3 linked regions of the Homo sapiens genome follow. The protein of the gene in region 2 purifies or fractionates together with the protein of the main gene of each other region. This does not show direct contact. Each region holds a gene or a part of one and is shown on either strand. Other genes may lie near its edges.

Region 1 (7,028 bases), on a different chromosome or scaffold from region 2:
CCAGGGTAGAGCCTGATGAAGAGCTTCCGCACCTCATCATACACCCAGATCAGGATGGCGTGCGGCACAGCCACAAACCAGTACTGAGCCCTGGAAGCAAAGGGATGGAAAGTGAACCCTGACTCATCCACAGGGATAGCCCAACCCTGCCCAATGGGAATGGGGCTTCTCGTTCATTTGTCTTGCTTTACTGCAAAGAACGACAAATCCACGAGGTCCCACAAAATAAAGGTGGAAAGCTCCTTGTTTAACCTGCACTGTGACTGCTAGAAGCAATGTCTGCCTTTGAAGCAACCTGTTGGATGAGGATGAAGGCCGGTTGGTGAGGTCTAGAAAACCCATTTCCACTTCTGGAAAATGCAGATCAAAGCTTTGGGCTCACAGAGCATGGGATCAGTTTGACGTCTTTTGAAAGACTTGGGGAAGAACCCTGGGAATCCTCAGGTTTATTTAGGCTGCGACAGCTCAAAGCAGAGGCTGGCTCTTTCCTCCATGCTGTTGAGGGTGAACTCACCTAAGCATGGTGAAACTCAAGGCTGTGACACTTCCGAGGCCATAGGAGAGGATCAGACCAATGATGATCTGTGAGGTGATCCCCACCCAGATGACTTTATTTCTGCAAGACACACAAAAGCAGACAGACTTGGGATTCTTGTGGCTTCATGATCATACACCCAGCAGACCATGCCACCAGAAAAATCAATGCCTCTGGGGTTACAAGTGTGGCCAGAACTCTGTCTTGTGAAAAACAAATCATCATCATCCTTGCACGGCAGGCCCAGGGCTGCCCCAGGAGGCCGGGCACAGGCAGTACCTGAAGAGACCCTGCTGGAAGATGGAATTCCTCCGGGTTTTCCTGATGATCAGATCTGCTATTTGCTGGACTAGGATGCCAACAAAGAAAGCCGTGTAGCCCGTCCATTCTAGGTATTCCCTCTGGTACCTTGTCTGTTAATGGGCAGAGAAGGAAGAGACCTTGAGGCCTAAAGGAAAACTTCTAGGAAATTCCAATGCAGTTCTCTAAAGCTTCATGTTCTTTCCACACCTCACCCGGACTGAGAATGGACCACCTTCTAGTGTTTGGAAAGAAACATTTTTCTTTCTTGAACCAGCTGAGTAGAGAAAAATGTTAATTTTTTAAAAAATTATCATTACTATTATTTCTAACACAGGCAGGGTCTCACTGTGTTGGCCAGGCTGGTCTCAAACTCCTGGGCTCAAGTGATTCTCCCTCCTCAGCCTCCCAAAGTGCTGGGATTATAGGCATTAGCCACTGCACCCGGCCTGAAAGATGTAAATTTATTTGGCCGCACTGTGGGTGTGGCTGGGCTGGTCACTCTTCTATACCAATGGCAAAGCTAAGGTAAAAAAAGGGACCTCTTGTCATCTAGCCCAAGACAGGAGGCTGTGCCATGAGACCTGGCAAAGGCCAAACACGTGTCAGCAAGGGGGCCCTGAGCCCTATTAATTGAAGCTTTCCCAGGCTGTTCAGGGACATGGAGGTTCTATGTAATTCTGCGCAGGGCAATGAGCATGGAGAGAATCAGGTGGACTCTGCAGCAGGGCTCCCGCCACTCACCCATTCCTGCCCATAGCTGTCTTTCAAGTCATTCACGTAGTCCTTCTCCCATTCTACCCGCAGGTTAATGAGAGTGCGGGGCAGAAAGCCCTCTTGTGCATAGACGGTGAAATACACAAGGAAAGCTCCCAGGGCTTGCATGAGGCCTGAAAGAACAAGAGAGATAGGACACAGGTTCTATGATGGCCTCAGGAAACTGCCTCATCCTGTCTACTCTCGGTTCCCCCTCCCTCCCCAACCCAGGCCCCACAGGAAAACCACACTTTCTGGCTGTGCCCCCCACTCCAGTGAATTCTCGGGGCAGGCCCTCGTGTGATGGGGAAGACGCGCCCTCATCGTACCAATGTGCAGGTATGAGTACACAGCGAGCGGCTGGTTCACCAGCCTGTCCTTATTCTTGTGGCGAGGCTTCCTGTTCATGATGTCACTTTCAGCTTTCTCGTACGCCAAGGCAATGGAGGGGATCTAGAGGGGAAGAGGCTGGTGAGGTCTAACCCCAGGATGTTCTGCTCTACCCACAGTAGGGGAGGGGGGCTGGGGTGGGTGGGGCACTGGCTGGATGGGGTGGGGGGCATGGAGCTGGCCCATCCAGGCTATAGGCAGTAGAGGGCGTGTTGTCTGTATGGAAATTTAAGAATAGTGCCTTTAGAAATCAGCTGCTTTTTATCACCCTGTGCTGGCAGTTCTGAAGGATGCTGGTTATAAAACACTCTTCCCCTACAGGGAGAATTTCTTGTGCCGTCCTCTCCCTCCAGGTGGGAGGACCTGCTAAGAGACAGATCATTGCGCCCCACCTCCAGACTTCCCAATTCAGGAGGACTGGGCTGGGGCCAGAGAATTTGCATTCATTTCTCTTTCTCTTTCCTTCTTTCTTTCTTTCTTTCTTTCTTTCTTTCTTTCTTTCTTTCTTTCTTTCTTTCTTTCTTTCCTTTCTTTCTTTCTCTTTCTCTCTCTTTCTCTTTCTCTCTTTCCCTCTCTCTCTTTCTCTCTTTCTTTCTCTCTTTCTCTTTCTTTCTTTCTCTTTTTTAAAAGACAATGGGTGTACAACCTATTTCCATTCCTAGCCCAGTTATCTGGAATAAGATTTTTATTTTATTTGTTCTTAATTTTTATTTTTTAAGAGACTAGGTCTCTCTGTGTTGACCAGGCTGGACTCAAACTCCTGAGCTGAAGTAATCCTCCTGCATTGGCCTCCTGAGTAGCTAGGCTACAGGTGTCCACCAGTGCCCAGAGTGTGCATGTCTAACAAGTTCCCAGGTGATGCCCGCACCAGGCCTGGAGAAGCACTGCAGCAGAGCAAAGCAGGCAAATGTGAAGGGCTTGGAAAATGATCCATCAACTTTGGGGACCTCAATACCCCTCAAAGGGAAAGACATCTCCAGTCTCTCTAGGAATTAGGGATTACCTGGGTGTTGTAGAAAACAAGAGAGGGGAAGGGGGCAATTTGAAGGGGAAGGGGGCACTTCGAAGGGCCAGTTTCCTGCTAAGAATTCAGCTTGCTGTCTGTTGCTTTCCCTGCTTGCCCACGTAAGCCACAGCCACATGGGCAGCTTAGACGGGGCTTTCTTTAAATGGATACTGGAAAAGGGGAAGGTTTAGGTGACATTACTGTAGGGCAAGGCTTTATAAAGTCTTCATAACTGCTACTTCTTACTGTGTTTAGGTAAAGGTCTTCCATGTCAGACTCTCTTACTTAACAAGAGGTGGCTGTGAGATTATCACTTTAGTCACTGGGCCCCCAGTGGTTATTTGGGTGATTAATCTGAGTGACAGCTTCATCTTCCCAAAAGAAAAGGGAAGCCCATAGGCTGAAACTGACCAATGGCATTTCTTTTTTTTTTTTGAGGATGAAGACTCATGTCTTGAAAAGCTTGCTATAGCTCAGGTGCAGTGACTCATGCCTGTAATCCCAGCACTTTGGGAGGCCGAGGCAGGTGGATCACTTGAGGCCAGGAAACCCCATCTCTACTAAAAATACAAAAATTAGCCAGGTGTGGTGGCACAAGCCTGTAGTCCCAACTACTTGGGAGGCTGAGGTGGAAGAATCACTTGAGCCTGGGAGGCGGAGGTTGCAGTGAGGCAAGATAGCACCACTGCACTCTAGCCTAGGTGATGGGAGTGAAACTCTGTCTCAAGAAAAAAAAGCTCACTATAGAGTGTTTTTAATTTCCAAACATTTGGCAGATGCCTCTGGTCCCTTGCTTTGAGGTGTGGCATGTGGACTGGTAGAATGGGCACCACCTGAGAACCTGTGAGAAATGCAGAGCTACAGGCCCCATCACATGGAAGCTGAGAAGCCTTGAGTTAGTCCATCCCCGGCCCTTGAAGGTAGCGACCCTGAACTTGACCTCCCCTGGGGCAGGCATCACAGCCTGTTCCCTTCAGTGTCACTTACAATGTCTGTCCCCAAGTCAATGAACAGAATGGTGATGGTGCCAATGGGCAGGGGGAGCCCGACAATGATGTAGATCAGAAAGGGGCACAGCTCGGCAATGTTCTTGGTCAGGGAATAAGCAATAGTCTTCTTGAGGTTGTCAAAGATCAGGCGACCTAGGCAGAGAGGTTTCTCCTTCAGAACTTACTTCTAGTCCCCCAGACCACCCTGGCCCTTGGGAAGACCCCCTGAGACTCACTCACCTTCCTCCACCCCTGTGACGATGGATGCGAAGTTGTCGTCCAGCAAGACCATGTCGGCTGCATTTTTGGCTGCATCAGAACCTGCTATCCCCATGGCAATCCCAATGTCTGCCTTCTTTAGAGCCGGAGAGTCATTAACTCCATCCCCGGTCACAGCAACAACAGCATCCTATGGCGGGGGACCCAGGGAGAAAGTGGGAGTGAGCAGGCCCAGTGGGTTGCAGGCCTGGCAAGAGCAACAAGACTTCCCTTTCTCTTGAGGTTGCGAGGATGATTATAGCTGAACGGAAAGGCCCATTTAGGGGAAAAGATAAAGATGAGAAATCTTAGAAGCAGGAACAAGGGTCTCCAAACAAGATACGTGCAAATGAGGAAAACCTAATGCGCAGGTGTCTTGTATCTTATGTCTTCACATTTTTTGTTTTAAATCTTTGCATTTTAAATCTCTCTTTACTCACAACTACCACAGTGGCAAATGCTTCACCGGGCTCTCATGACAAAATGCAGAGAGCTGGGGTGAGCCTTTCGGGGAACATGTGGTGGGGGTCTCAAAGGAGGACAGGGGCCAGCCCACCTGAGAGGTTGGAGAGGTCAGGTGATGGGGATGAGCCAAGAACTCTCTCTTGAAGTTTCAAAGGCACCACAGCCTGATGTGAGATCCAGACCTCTGCACTTGCCCATGGACAGTGATGGGCCTGTCAGTCCTCTGGACACTGCTGTCCACCCACCTGCCTCTGACAGCCCTCCACAATGATCAGCTTCTGCTGGGGGGATGTCCGGGCAAAGACAATCTCCTGGTAGTTGGCTAAGATCTCATCCAGCTGTTCTGAGCTCATGTCCTTCAGCTCCATGCCAGTCACCACAGCGGCCTTGGCATCCCTAGAAGGGCCAGAAGAAACTGGGTGAGGCCCAAGGGCAGATCTTAGGTTGAAACACTGTTCCAGGCAGGATGCTGGCTGAAGCCTCTCTGACTTGACCTGGAACCCAGTGTCCTTGATACCTAATGCTCTAGTGAGGTAACAGGAGTCCTGGGAACACTTTAGTCTCCATTTCAAGAGGGCAAACTGAGGCTAAAATATAACACCATTTCTTGGTACCATATAACAATAGGAATAAAAAACCAGGTAGCCTTATCCCTACTAGAACAGGTGAGAGTGGTACTTCCTAGAGCAACGCTTTACTTCAGAAGTAAAAGGAAGTTAAAAAACTGCCCATTCATGGCCAAACGCAGTGGCTCATGCCTGTAATCCCAGCACTGTGGGAGGCTGAGTAGGAGGATCACTTGAGGCCAAGAGTTCAAGACCAGCCTGGGCAACATAGTGAGAGCCCCTGTCTCTACAAAAAATTTTAAAAAATTAGCCAGGTATGGTGGCATGTGCCTGTGGTCCCAGCTACTCAGCAGGCTGAGGCAGGAGGATTGCTTGAGCCTGGGGGGTTGAGGCTGCAGTGAGCCATGATCATGCCACTACACTCAAGCCTGGGTGACAAAGTGAGACCCTGTCTCAAAAACAAAAATAAAAATAAAACCCCCAAACTGCCTGTTCATATGTTTTGGGTCCTAGAATTCTTTTATGGCCAAACAAGGGGTAATAATTACTTGCCGTTGGGTATTTCAGATTTACAGAGTGTCATCTTTGTGCAATGTGCTACGTAGGCAGAAGTTTACTGAAGTCTTTGAGCAGCGCTATTGCCTGCTGACTATAAAAGTAAGGTTCTAGGGCCTATTGATTATGCAGAGCTGCCTGAGCCAGTCCCCTGCTAAAACTCTTCAGGGGCTTTCCACCGTGCTTGGAGCAGACCCCGGAATCCCTAACTTTAGCCAGCGAGCCCAGGTGGGGCCTGCGTTGTCAAGCTTCGCCTCACCTTGGGCTCTCCCTCCTGCCCGCTGGATGCTCTCAGTTCTGACATCCTCCATCCCCTGTACCCTAAGGCCTTCACGGGTCTCGCTCCCTGACCAGGAATGGGCATCTCTCACCTCAGCTTCTCGTGGCTAACACTACATTTCAGCCTTCAAATCTCAGCTTAAACAATGTAGGTACAAACTGCTGCAGGTCTTTTTCTTTACAATTTGCAAGTTTTGAGCTTTCTAGGTCTGTTTTACCTCTTGGTGCTAAATACTGGAATTCTAGCACTTGACTCAAACTACAGGTCTCCTTAACCGCTGGCAAAAAAACAAAACAAAACAAAACAAAAGAAAGTAAGAGAAGAAAGAAGGGGTGTTTCCTTTCCCCTTACACCTGCTAAGATGCAATTTTTATATGGTCATGAAACTAGAGCTGATGAAGTGAATAACTGAAAACATTCACAAAAGCATCCACTTCACTCAGTGTGGTGATTTGTATACAAATGTGTAATCCACTCTTCCCTTTTGTGGCCATGAGCAGAGTGGCAGTGACCAAGAGGAAGTGCAGTCCCTTTGTGACTTTTGACTGAGGCAAGAATCATAAAAGTCATTTCAATGCACCTTCCCACATTCGTAGGAAGATTATGTCTTTCTCTCGTTCCAAAGAGCTGAGACAGAAGCACATTCTGGAGTCTGCTACAAGCACAGTTCCATCCATGCCCATCTGAAAGGATGAGGAAGTTGAGGTTGCACAAAGACACTATACGGGCCAGCAAATTGGCAAAGCAGTCCAGGTTTATAGGAAGAAATGTGCCACCTATACTGAACAGGAGCACAGGAGGAGGCTAAGGGCAGGACCGTCGTGTGCACGTCACCAGCACATGGCCATCACCAGGCTAAAACTAGACAAAGACCACAAAAGATCCTTGAATGGAAGGCCAAACAAATCTTCCTAAGTAGGGAAGGAAG
Region 2 (6,926 bases):
AAAATTGAAGCAAGTAGAAAAGAATTTTTATTGCAACCCACTTCTTTCCAGCATCTGCCAATATACTGTGCCTTTCCTCCTGTTCATATTAGATGAACCTCTCCTGCTCTTATCTAAGGCCACCTCATCTGCTTGTATGCTATGTCTCATCCCCTTTTGCCTACTCAAGAAGATTGACCCAATCATTCTACCCTCTCTTTGCTATATTATTAGTTTTTTCCTCTATCTACTAGATCATATCCAACATGCTGGTTTTTTTCTGTCTTTAAAAATATTTCTGACCAAGCACAGTGGCTCATGCCTATAATCTCAGCACTTTGGAAGGCCAAGGCAGGCGGATCATTTGAGGCCAAGAATTCAAGACCAGCCTGGCCAACATGGTGAAACCCCGTCTCTAGTAAAAATACAAAAATTAGCCAGGCTTGGTAGTGGGCAGCTACTCTGGAATCTGAGGCAGGAGAATCGCTTGAACTGGGGAGGCAGAGGCTGCAGTGAGCCGAGATAGGGAGGCGGAGGCTGCAGTGAGCTGAGATCGTGCCACTGCACTCCAGCCTGTGTGACAGAGCGAGACTCCATCTCAAAAAAAAAAAAAAAATTCTTGGACTCTCTTCTTTACCTTTTCCCTGGTCCCACCATCAAGCTATACTGCCTCATTCCTTTTATGTCCTTTATAGAAAAACTCCTTGAAAGAGTTGAAGATATTAACCATCTCCAATGTCTCCAATTCCTCTTTTCATTCTTTCTTAGGCCATTCTAACCAGGCTTTCATCTCCACTCTTCTATCAGACCTGCTCTTAAACAAAACTTTCAATATCCTCCACATTGCTAAATCCAATGGTCAGTTCTCAGTCCTCATCTTACTTGACCTATCAGAAGCTTTTAACACATTTGATCTTTCCTTTCTTTTGTAAGTATTTTCTTCACTTGAGTTCCAGGATACTTTTTCCACACACGGTCTTCTCCATGTCAATCAATGACAACTCCATCCTTCCAGCTATTCAAGCTAAAAATCTTGGAACTATTCTTTACTCCCCTCTTTTTCTTGCAGCCCACATCTAGTTTGTCAGTACATCCTATTGCCTCAATCTTCAAATTATATCCTGCATTTAAGTCTAAACATTTTTTTTTGTTTTTGTTTTTGTTTTTGAGACAGGGTCTTACTCTGTTGACCAGGCTGGGGTGCAGTGGCACCATCATAGCTCACTGTAATCTGCAACTCCTGGGCTCAAGAGATCTTCCTGTCTTAGCCTCCCAAGTAGCTAGGACTACCGACATGTGCCACTGCACCTGGCTAATTTTTAAAATTTTTTTGTAGAGACAAGGTCTCCCTGTGTTGCCCAGGCTAGGACTCCTGGCTTCAAGCCATCCTCCTGCCCTGGCTTCCAAATCTCTGAGATTACAAACACTTTAACTGTATAATAAATTGATATCTTTATAGATCATTTCCATTTACTTTTTTGTGAGTTATTACATTTTTGAAAATACAGTAGACTTTTAGAACCCACAAATGCTTTTCCTTATCGTATCAGGAAATACTGTGTCTAATCTACAAAAGTCGGATTTTTAACAGGCTCAAATAAAAATGGCCTGTTTCTAACAACCAAAGAAACAACAAAGCAACAACATAAACATACACTCAGACATCCACTTCATACCACCTCAGCAACAGCAACAACACACATACACACACATCTACTTCTCATTACGTTTAATGCTGCCTTCCTGATTCAAGCCACCATAATCTCTGCTTGCATTATTATAATAACCTGTCATTTAGTCTTCTTACATTCACCCTACAGACCATTCTCAGCATAACAGCCAGAGTGATCCTCTTAAAAAATAAATCAGATCATGTTATACCTCTTTTTAAAACCTGTGATTTGCTCCTTTTCTCTTAGAGTGAAAGCCAGTGTTCTTACAGTGGCCTGCAGAGATTGACATGGTCTTCCCACCACCCCCTTACATCTCTGACCTTATCTTGTACTACTCTAATGTTCCAACCATATTGGCCTGCTTACTATTCCTCAAACAAAAGTAGGCATATTCTTGTCTCAGGGCTTTAGTACGTGCTGTTCACTGTGTTTGACTGCCACAGTCTTCATGGCTGATCTCTTTCAAGTCTTTGCTCAAATACCACCTTTCAGTGAGTCTTCCCTAACAATCCAATTTAAATTGCAAACACTCCATGCGCTCCTAGTCTCCTTTGTGCTACTTATAAACAAAAGCCAAAACCATAGCACTCACTACATTCTAACATACTTGCATAATTTACGTACTTATTTTAGTTATTTGACTGCCTTCCCTCACAAGAATATAAACTTCACAAAGGCAAGATATTTATCCATTTCGTTCACTGGTATATCTCTAGTACCTAAAACAGTTCCTAGCACATTTTAAGGACTCAAATATTTGTTCAATGAATGAATGAAAGAAATTTGGTTAAAAACTGGAACAAAACAGGAATGGAGGCCAGCGACAGGAGAACTTCTCTACCTCATTTCCTGTAGGCCTACATGCTTGGAACTTAAAAGCAGGTTGTTGTGAGCCTAAGGCCTGAAGACATGCAAACTTTCTTTTTTCTTTCTAACCAAACTCCTGCTTTTTAAAAAATCATATTATTTCTGGGAGTGAGTCTGTGCTGTGTATTTAATCTTGGATTGCCAAGCCAGTGAGGTGGGAAAAGGTTGGAACATATCTCTATTCTAAAGAGTAGAGTTGGATTTTGTAAATATAGGTGTATTTCATGATAATTTAAAATGTTTTCTTGAAGTAATATATGTGTGTACAAAAAAAACACATATCATAAGTATATAGCTCACTGAATTTTCACAAACTGAATTTGTCAATGTAATTGGCATCCATAGCAAAAAGCAGAACCCAGCTAACATCTCAGATGCTCCTCTGTGCCCTTTCCAGTTACTAGCTACTACCCAGGGTGACCACTATTCTGACTTCTCATGCCTTGGAAGTGTTTTGCCTAATTTTGTTCTTGATATAAATTAAATCATACAGTATAAACATGCTTGTATCTCTTTTTTTACTCAAAATTTTGTTTGTGAGATTTATCCACATTGTTATATATGGTCAGAGTTTGTTCGTTTTCATTGCTATATAAAATTTCACTTACAGTCTAACCATTCTACTGTTGATGGATATTTGGTTTCCAGTTTGGGGGTTATTATGAATAGTGCTACTATCAACATTCTATTAATGTATTTTGGTGTATGTATGCGTGAATTTCTTTGGACATTTTTGTGTTTTTTAAATCCACAGTCAGTGAACCCTAAGTGTTCCTCAGCATTGCAGTCAGTATATTTACCATGTATGCGTTACTCAAATGACAGCTGTAGTTGCAGGCATTACCAAATCCTTCCCTCCTTAATGTTATCACTGGACTTTGTCTATACTTGGGATTCTTAACATGTTGTATTTTGGTTAAGTATGCGTATTCATGTTTTTTATTAGATTTTGAGTGCTTTTTAGTACTTTGTTTTACTTGCTTATGTATCCCGACTCCTGACGAGGTACCTGAAATATAGTAAGCTAGTTGAGCGAATGGTGATAGCTGTCACCATTGCCAGTGATTAACAGAGCAAGTTTCCCTAGTTATGTGAATCACTTAGCCTAGAGTAAAATCCATGCTTTAGTTTGATATCTCAGTGTCAAAGGATTAGGAATGGGAAGTCATTTCTCTCTGAGAGAAGCCCAGAACTGTGGGCTCAGAACTGAATGTGCTGTGTGGCTAAAGGGAATTGCTATGGCTTTACAAGCCTCTTGGAGATTTAAAGTGTTAACAGCAGTGATTCCAAGGCATAGTGTGGGGGGGCCAGATATAAATAGCAGAACACAAGTAGCGTAGTGTGCCACTGCCAAGCTACTGCTGGGGGTGTTTATAAAAAGAAAAGCATTCCTGTCTCAGCTCTCACTGTCAACAACATCCCATCCTGAAGACTTGCTTACCACAACTGAGAGTGGGGAGTCAGTTTGAGGCCTAGCATCACTTAAACTTCCTCCAAAGGCACAAAAGCCAGGTAAACCTTTTGACTTATTTACACTCAGACTAAAGAAATGAACAATTTTTAGGAAAATCCTGATCAAAGCTTGCTTAAAACATATTGCCTTGTGACAGATATCTATCATCTTATATTCAAATCTTTTTTGGAAAGAGAAGTTTAACACAAAGTAGCATGTTGGTACTATATTTTAGTATTTTTAGTAAAAACAAAACAAAACTGCTTCTGAAGAAATATGGGAAACTGAGGCCAAAATGATCTATAAAAGGGAAGACTTCTCCCTTCCCCTGTGCTGTTCATTCTCATTTTTAGAATCCAGAATATGGTGATTGGTAGGGTAAAATAGAAGCTTCATTTGAGTTACATTATCATAAATACTGGGATGAATATTAGGCATTCGGCCAATAGTTGTATAATCTTAGAATTGCTGCCTACCCAGTTCCTTCTTATTCTTGTTCCCGCCTTCAGAAAGTTATGTAAGACACTTATTTTACCCTCGGGCTTCTCTTGATTGTATTTGGGGGAAGGGGGCCATCTCTGACAATCCACTGCTTTGTACCACTACTGACCTCATCATCTCCTCTGTCCCACTCAAAAGGGCATGACAATGTGCAAAGAGGATAGAAGAATGGATAATGTGCATGGACATATTCCTGGGGAATTCTTAGAAACTGGGAGCTAGGGGACCAATTTGAGACTGCTGTTTTTTAGTCTGATTGTGTTATTTCCTGTGCACGCTGAGGGGAGATTTAGAGATGGGAAGAAAATATGACTCCCAGTGACTGTGGTGGGAGAGATGACATGTCTGGAGGAGTATGGAAATGCACAGATTTAATCTTGAGCAAATCACTGAAATTCTAAGGTGTTTTTGTTTCCTCGTCTGTAGAATGAGAGCATTAGACCACTAGATAAAGCCTAATGGCTCTTGTAGCCCGTTAGGAATTTATTGATAATCACTTCCTGACCATCATGCTATCCACTCACATTCTAAATGAAAAAATACGCAGTGTCATCCTATTCTACTTCCCTACACCTCTTTTTTGAGTCTACTGAATTGAAATTTCTTTATTTTAATTTAGAAGAGAAAAATGAAGACGGGACATTTTGAAATAGTCACCATGCTGCTGGCAACCATGATTCTAGTGGACATTTTCCAGGTAATGTTGGGAATGGGAAGCATGTGGTCATTGGAATGGAAATTCGTTTTTTTTTTTTTTTGAGACGGAGTCTCTCTCTGTCGCCCAGACTGCTGGAGTGCAGTGGCTCGATTTCGGCTCACTGCAAGCTCCGCCTCCCAGGTTCATGCCATTTTCCTGCCTCAGCCTCCCCAGTAGCTAGGACTACAGGCGCCTGCCACCACGCCTGGCTAATTTTTTGTATTTTTGGTAGAGACGGGTTTTCACCATGTTAGCCAGGATGGTCTCGATCTCCTGACCTCATGATCCGCCCACCTCGACCTCCCAAAGTGCTGGGATTACAGGCGTGAGCCACCGCGCTTGGCCTGGAATGGAAATTCTTGATATAACATTACCTGAGGCATCTGTGTGGCTTGATGGTGGAAATGAAAGTAGGTAGGATAGGTAAATTAATTATAAGTAGCTCTTTTCATTTTAAATATGTGACAGATTAACTGTAAAAAGTTGAAAAAATTAAAATTAAGCAAAAAGAGGAAAGTAAAGATTATTCATAATTCCTCCACTCAGAGGGAATGATTCCCAACCTGTTGGTGTATACAGGCTTCTTGGCTTTTTTCTATGTGTATACTGTTTTTAATTTACAAAAATGGGTTCACACTGTACATAGAATTTTTTCTTTGCATTTTAAGTTAATACTATGCTGCATGTCACGCATGTCATCAGATATTCTGAATATATGTTTTTCTCCAAATAAGATAATGCTGCATTGTTTGATTACATGTTTTTTAATTAATGACCATTTTCCCACATTTTTTTTCTGGCAGAACTTTTATGATTTTATTTGCAATTGACTCTTTAAGCATCCTGTAACATATTTTTATGTAAAATATAATATTTCACTTGATTTTTTTTCCCCACGTTGTTAGCTGCCACATTACTTGTGGGTATTTGTGCACCATTTTAGATGCCTTTTTAAAAATATCTTAAATTCTTAAACTGTTATCCTTTTTTGAATTTAATATTCTAATCCATTTTCTATAGAATCATTGTGTATCCTGTTTCCTGTGTCGCAGTATGTTTTTTATTGAAATATAATTTACATACCATAAAAATTCACCATTTTTAGCTGTATACTTCAGTGGTTTCAGTATATTCATTATGTTCTGCAACCATCACCACTATCTGATTGCAAAACATTTCCGTCAACCCAAAAAGAAACCCTGTACTTATTAGCAGTCAGCCCCAATTTTCTCCATCCCCCATTCCCTGGCAACCACTGTCTACTTTCTGTGTCTATGGTTTTGCCTATTCTGGATATTTCGCCTAAATGGAATCATACAATATGTGACCTTTTGTGTCTGGCTTCTTTCACTTAGCATAATGTTCTCAGGAGTCCTATCAGTACTTCATTCTTTCTTATAGCCGAGTAATATTCTATTTTATGGCCGTACCGCATCTTGTTTATCCATTTATCAGCTGATGGACATTTGGGCTGTTTCCACTTTATGGCTATTACGAATAGTGGTGTTGTGAACATTTATGTACAAGTTTTTATGTGAACATGTGTTTTATTTTTCTTTTTAAAAAATTTTCTAATCATATAGTCTTGACATATTGAGATACTACAAACACTATTTGGTTATTTGGTAGCATTACAGAGTAAAGTTTACTTATATATAGGAAATATATATGTAAGAATGAATTTGGGGGTTATGATTTATGATTCATAGCAAAATTACCTATTGTTGTGAACATGTTTCACTTCTCTTGGGTGTAC
Region 3 (7,028 bases), on a different chromosome or scaffold from region 2:
AAAGATAAAAATAAATAAAAATAAAAATAAAAATAAACCAAATGAATGAAGTTTCCCTCCAAGTTTGTCATCTTCATCTTAGGAAATAGCTTAAAGTTTAATAAAGTTTACACATGCCAATTTTGTGAATATCAAATTCAACAGTTTGGAAACACAAGCTTCTAAATAAACTGTTTCACTGTGACAGTGTCCTTGAGAATACATGCCATCCAGAGGTAATTCTGCTTTATACTCAGATTCTTTCCATACTTCCAAAAAAGGATCAATATTAGACCTGTATAACAAATTACACTCTTTTACAGAAAATAATAAAATATCCAAGTCTCTCACCAAATTTTCAAAAAAGAGGAAAAGTGTAAGCTTCCAGATGAAAGTTTCTATAGCTTTCCCCAAATTTAGTACCACCATGAAAAAGAAATTCTTCACTCATTCAAGGCATACGACTAGAAAACTAATTTCCATGGCATCAAATTAATTTCCTCCTTTGGAGATAAAACCATGAGATCTTTTCCAAAGCATTAAAATCGCCAAGAAAAAAAAAAAAAAGAAAAAAAAGACCATTACCAGCATTTTAAAACTGAGTAAGAGAATGAAGTAAACAAAAAAGGGAAAGAAAAAGCTTCAAAAGTTCATTTTTCTCCTAATTTCTTGAACTCTCTATTCCAGAAGTACCTAATGTTTTTCTTAAAAGAGAGGCTTTCAATTTTTCCCTATGTCTAAAGGCTGCTTTAAGTAGCTTAAGACCAAGGACAGGAGAGTGAAAACGAAGAGGGTTTTGGCTCTCCTCGGTGGGGGTGGAATTGCAGCTACTGCTTAGGGATATTTTCCAGTGGTCAGCTCTTCAAACTCCAGTGAGTCTCATAAACAGGGTGCACCAGCCAATCCAAGTATCCAGTATCTACAATGCAAACTGTAGATACTATCCAAATTGACAGTAGATAGCTCAGTAAATAGCTGAGCAAACTGCAATGATAGCTCAGTCTTGAACTCTGGAAATAAATTTCCAAAAGCCTTCCCCAGTGGCACTTCAAACTCAAAAACGTTTACAAAACCAATCACATTTTCCAAACCTGCTTCCACCACTACCCGACCTGTTGCTCCTCCTTCCTGTATTTCCTATACCTCGGAGATTAGTCTCACATTGAATCTACCTCCCAAGAGTCATGTTGCTTTTAAAATCCTTCACTAACTCCTTGCTCCCTACAGAAGAAAATCCAAACTATGTATCATGGCATTCAAGACCCTTTGTGGTAAGTTCTCTATCTCTTCAGTCATACCACTTTTTCTGTGCTACATAATACCAAGTTTTCTAGCCATTCTAAAATATTCAAAGGTCCCTGGAATACAAAATCTTCCTTATACCTGGAAAGTTATCCCTACCCTACTCCATCTGTAAAAACCTTATTCATTCTTTAAGACTCAGGTCAATGACTGCCTTCTCGGTCAATATTTTCCTGACTCTTTTTCAAGAAAAGTTGAGCAATCATTCCCTCTATTTTCCTATTATTATAGAACTCTGTGCTTTTAAAATTCTTGTATTAATATTAATATCTATTATGTTGCCTTTTTGTTTGTTTGCTTCTGTTTCCCCCCAATGACTGATCTCCTTAAAGGCAGAGTTTTTGCCTTATCCATTGCTTATATAGTCCTTAAAATGCTATGAAATGCATAGCAGGCAGTTTGTCAAATTAATTTAACTTATTATTGACCAGCTGTGTTTTGGTTTTCCTCTGTTCAGTCCACTTACATTTCTAAAAATTAAGAAAAAGTCTAGAGAAGATTAAAATGACACATCTTCTAACCTGTTACTCCTACTTCTGAAATCTATGTGGTTCACTAGTACTTCCATTTGCTACTAAATCAACTTAAGTCTTACCACTAAGACGATGCTACACACTATTCCTTTTCCTTACTCTTAACTACTCAAGGTGAGCCTTTTTCTACACATGCTTATAGCAGTTTATTGTCAGTACTTGTCAGCTACAAAATGGTAAAAAAATTTTAAAAAACAAAAAATAAAACAAAACTTCTATAAGAGTGACTTTGACTATTTTGTTAACCATATCTCCGGGTTTTTTGTTTGTTTGTTTTTTTTTTTTTGAGACAGAGTCTCGCTCTGTCACCCAGGCTGGAGTGCAGTGGTGCGATCTCAGCTCACTGCAAGCTCCGCCTCCCGGGTTCACGCCATTCTCCTGCCTCAGTCTCCTGAGTAGCTGGGACTACAGGCGCCCACCACCAGCCTCAGCTAATTTTTTGTATTTTTAGTAGAGATGGGGTTTCACAGTGTTAGCCAGGATGGTCTCCATCTCCTGACCTCGTGATCCGCCCACCTTGGCCTCCCAAAGTGCTGGGATTACAGGCGTGAGCCACCGTGCCCAGCCCAAATCTCCAGTTTCTAAACTGGTAAGCTCAAGTTGCTATGCCTCAAGGAATTTGAGAGAATATTTAATATAAGATTCAGGACCCAATAGTAAGAATTCTACTCAGGACATCTGATCTTCATTGAAAAGGATTCTAATCCAACTTCAGTCCTCATAGCAAGGAAGTACTATTTCAGAAAGTCCCTAGATTCTCAGATGCATTGGCAAGCACCATACACTGAAGAATTCACAGAAGATTTTAGTCACTTGCTCACTCATCCACTTGAAGTAAGAAAAATCAATCACTGCATGTTTATTGTTCTATAATAAAGCAAATGTTAGAAATAAAAGTTAGAAATGTCAAACACACTAAATTGTTACATAATAAACTAATCAAGACACAACTTTTATTCAGGACATGGATATTTCTGAAATGAAAATAAAAGAAGAGAATTGACTTAAAATGTTTATAAATACGAATATTATGACAGAACCAAAGCTATTTATGAGCATTATTTTTAAAAGCTTGTTTAAGTATCATGCACTTGTCTGTGTGACATTTTGTAAAGCGGAGAAAAATTAAGGAGAAAGGAATTGTAGAACACTAACAGGAAGAGGACAGATACTGAGGAATGGCTCATGGTATAAGTGAGATTATCAGAGACTCTCTACAATGGAATTTGAAACGCAGGGAGCACATTTGGTGTATGGTTGTAGAGGACTTACACTAAGGGCATTCTTCTGCTACCTCTGCCAGCAGATGAGTGGCTCCTGAGAATGCATACCAAATTAATTCCCCAGCTGTTCACATGCATATAAGCAGCTGCTGCTGTTACTGCCTAATACTTATGGCAGTCTGTCAGCACCTCTAATCTCTGCCATAGCAGACAAGCCACTCACCTAAGGCCTCTGCTGTACTTCCAAAGAAAGAATTTCTCAAGTAGAGACTGAGTGGAACTAGACTGCCAGCTGTGAGCCTCAGAGCTCCTGGCTGCCTGTTGCTGAGTCTATCAGCTGCTGAGCCTTTCTCACCAAAAAAAAAAAAAAAAAAAAAAAAAAAAAAAAAAAAAAAATGAGCTTAATAAAATAACCCTGCACAGAAATTTTCTGAAATTAAGATAACATTCAATGGAAAACAGAATTTAATCTACAGAAATACACTTCACAGATGTTTTAGGAACAGAACCTAGAGAAAATGAAAGTCAAAATTTAATAAAAGAATTTGTCAGGAACTTCAAGGTAAAGACTCCATGTATTTTTTGGCAACTATAAAACACTAAGAAGGCTTTTTAAATATTAAAAAGCCATTTAAACACTTCAAATTAAGATTCCTCAATATACTTCAGATTTCTGTACTGAGTTACCCTCTCGAGTGTTTGGAAGTCTTTTCTTCCTCATTAAGCAAACACTTACACAGTGTTATCATGGCTTTGTAATCTTAGTTTTGAAGACAGGCAAATGTACTAGTCAAATATGCCAAACTAACTTATTAAGAGCATTCCAAACAACATTTTGGATCCAAATCTTTTTAAATGCACTTAGATCTTTCTTATATCAGAATCAAGCATATTTGTCAATTACTTAATGTTTATTATTAATAACTAAAATGATTTGTTATTAATAGGAATAGCTTTTTTAAAGTACCTTGATCTTTGTGTTTCTAAGATTTGTCCTAGTCCATTTATGGATCTGAAATAAATAATAAATGAGGAAGACAAAGTTTAAAAGTAAAAATTAACTTTTTAAAAAAGTATACAAAGTATATTGTTTCTAAAACGGGAAATAAGCATACCCAAATACATCTGGAACCAGAAAAAAATTAAAAACAGAAAAACAAAACTTGCTTTAAAAAATAATTATGATTTTCCTTCAAACAATAAATCACATATATTCCACTCATACATCAATAAAACATATATGCAAAAATTCACACAACTGTCAGATTAAGGGCTACTTTGTGGTTAATAAAAAGACGCTTCACTTTAGAAAAAATCATTCATAAATAGTCAGTTATCCCAGTGTTCTTAAAAATGAGTAGATACTCAAAATTTTTACGGTGGTCACTTTTTTCCTCAGGCATACATGGTAGAAATGGCTATATACACACTAAAAATAAAAACCTAGTTGTAAGTTGCTTTGCCCCCAGCCTGTCCTTAGTATTCACAGTAATTCTAAGTCACACATCCCAGGTTCCTTTATAGAATAACCTCGTCAGTTCCCTAATTAGGCTCTCTACCCGTTATGCCTGTTCTCCCTCTTTTGATACTATAGAATATGGCTTTGTATGGAACCAAAAAGTACCTGTTAAATTCTTTTCAACACACTGTACACCTCATCTATTTATCTTTTCCATTGCCTATCATCAATCATCAATTCTCTATCATGAATTCAATTGTCTTTAGGGTTACTTACCCAAGATTCTTGCTACTTGTTCAAGTTTGTTCTCATGGGTAAGGCTTCCCACATATAATGATTCTGAGGCAAGTCTCTCCACTATTTTACAAAATTCTTAAATCTTCTTTTTTGAATACACTCTAGTCTGATGGCTAATTCCTCTCAAACATGTTTACCTTTTTTCACCTCCCCAAATATCATTCTGAGTCAGTCACAAGTCTGATATAAACGGAGGGTAAAAGCCAAAAGGGTGTGTAATTTACCAAATTGCTTCTACCAAATTCATTTCTAGTACTGTTAACAAGCTGGCTAATAGTCAATATTGTCAGTGTCAGAGATTTAGCTTAGGTCTCTATAAGGATATAAAAGTCAAGTAATAATTATCATTCCTTTTATGCCAAAAACGTTTGCTAAATAGATTGTGTTCTTCTTAGCAATCACAATGGTGCACAAGATTTATGAAGAGAAACAAGATTAGAAGACCAGTGTCAAAAAATGTAAAAGCAATCTTCATTCATCACTTTCTCCTTTTCAAAATCAGCCATCTTTTTCTTTCTTCCCTTTTTTACTATACCTTGAACTTACTATGTAAGCTAAGAAAAAAATTACATAATAATAGCTAACAGAGCACTTACTATGTGTCAGCACTGTGCAAAGTTTACCAACATTGTCTCATGTAATACTCAAAGCAAACTTATGATAGGCATTATGCCTTTTACAGAGGAGGCTTTAAAAGGGTAAATAAGCTCCCTAAGAAGACAATGAGAAACAGACCAAGGATTAGAACCCAAGCAGATTCCAAGGTCTGTGATCTTCAACACTAGGCAACAATACCTACCCTCCACATGGAGACATTATATTTTTTTATAGTAAAGTTTAAGGACATTACTATTAAAATAAGATGAAATATGTGGAAAAAATATGAATTTCTTTCTTCCACAATCATTAATCATGGCAAATAATCTCCTAATGAGCCTTACCTTTATTGATTCAATTTATAATATATACTATATGAACTGAGATGACAGATTGAAAATCTAGTCAGTAGAACTTATAAATACTAAGAATAGTAATTTTGAGCCATCACGCTCAAAGCATTGTACACATTAAAGATAACCAATAATAATAGCTACCGAATGTCTCTCTGTATAGGGCTTTTATTAGTTCAGGTCTTACAAAATAATTCAAAACAAAGTCCCTGAACTATAACTTCATTTGAAAAGTCCATCTTTGTTTTCAAAAGGAATGGGAGTCTCCAGAACAGTCAGCAAAATGACTGTTAGCACATATTTGAGCATCATTCATATTGTCCTGATTGTCCTATGCTGATCAGCCTTGGCTATGGACAAAGAAGATATACAAGCAAGCTGGAAGACAATGCATGGTTGACAGTTAAGGAAGATGAAGTCAACAAGAGTTCAGGGAAAACTGAGACCACTTGAGTCAGGGAAGACTTCACATAGGAAGCGGGGAGAGACAGAATAGGCTCTATAGAATAAATTAAAAAAAAAAAAACAGAACAAGAAAGAACTCAGGGATTGGCAGAGTGAGAATACATTATGAGTAAAGACAGGAACTGACAGGATGCATCCATGGGAAAGTGAATTAACCATCCTGGGTAAAGTTAGGGAAGACTGACATTAGGAAAGAGTCAAAGAGAAGACAGGAAAAGAAAGATGGAGTGCGAAGACCCTGAATATCAGTCTATTAACTGTGAACTATATTCTGCAAGCACTGGGGACTAATTTTATGTATTACCATTTATATAACAATTAGCCATCAACAATATATGTGATTCCCTAACGTTCTTGAAGCAGGTCAACCTTATACCTTAAGTTTCTACAGGGCAACAATCAGAGTAAAAAATATTCTGTGTATACAATATGGATCTGTAGGCACTTAACACACTTATCATTTTGTACCTAATTGTCGTTCTTAATTTCTTTACATCTTCTTCTGGAACCAAGTCTGTTTTATTAATGAGAATGATATCTGCCAAAGCAACTTGCCTAAAATAGCAAACAAAAAGAAATGTTAAGAAATTTTAAATAATATACACGCATGCAGATTAATACATCAAAAGAGAAATGTTAACAAATTAAAAATAAATAAAAACACCTCATGTAGATCAATATATCAGTTAAGGATTATATAGTGCTCTATAGGAGTGATTCAGTTTACTCCTAATCCGCTAATTTTTCAATGTGAATGAATTGTATTCATTACTATGCAAGTTCAGATTTCACATTACCCATTTGCAAAGTATTTACTAAG

Evidence for each region. Proteins that work in one complex are often made in the same cells at the same time.
Region 1: the proteins of ART3 (region 2) and ATP12A purify together in Homo sapiens (affinity purification with mass spectrometry; 3 studies listed by BioGRID and IntAct, with this or other methods). This does not show direct contact.
Region 3: the proteins of ART3 (region 2) and ZNG1C purify together in Homo sapiens (affinity purification with mass spectrometry; 3 studies listed by BioGRID and IntAct, with this or other methods). This does not show direct contact.

The regions. Positions count from the first base shown.
Region 1 is NC_000013.11:24,704,380-24,711,407, reverse strand, and holds part of ATP12A (potassium-transporting ATPase alpha chain 2), read right to left. Parts: intron 5,096-7,028; coding exon 4,945-5,095; intron 4,386-4,944; coding exon 4,217-4,385; intron 4,130-4,216; coding exon 3,975-4,129; intron 2,045-3,974; coding exon 1,921-2,044; intron 1,726-1,920; coding exon 1,580-1,725; intron 949-1,579; coding exon 815-948; intron 617-814; coding exon 515-616; intron 91-514; coding exon 1-90. UniProt on the Homo sapiens protein: The catalytic subunit of a H(+)/K(+) ATPase and/or Na(+)/K(+) ATPase pump which transports K(+) ions in exchange for Na(+) and/or H(+) ions across the apical membrane of epithelial cells.
Region 2 is NC_000004.12:76,070,789-76,077,714, forward strand, and holds the start of ART3 (ecto-ADP-ribosyltransferase 3 isoform a precursor), read left to right. Parts: upstream 1-3,920; 5' UTR 3,921-4,031; intron 4,032-5,092; 5' UTR 5,093-5,101; coding exon 5,102-5,170; intron 5,171-6,926.
Region 3 is NC_000009.12:68,265,955-68,272,982, reverse strand, and holds part of ZNG1C (zinc-regulated GTPase metalloprotein activator 1C), read right to left. Parts: intron 6,764-7,028; coding exon 6,677-6,763; intron 4,050-6,676; coding exon 4,005-4,049; intron 1-4,004.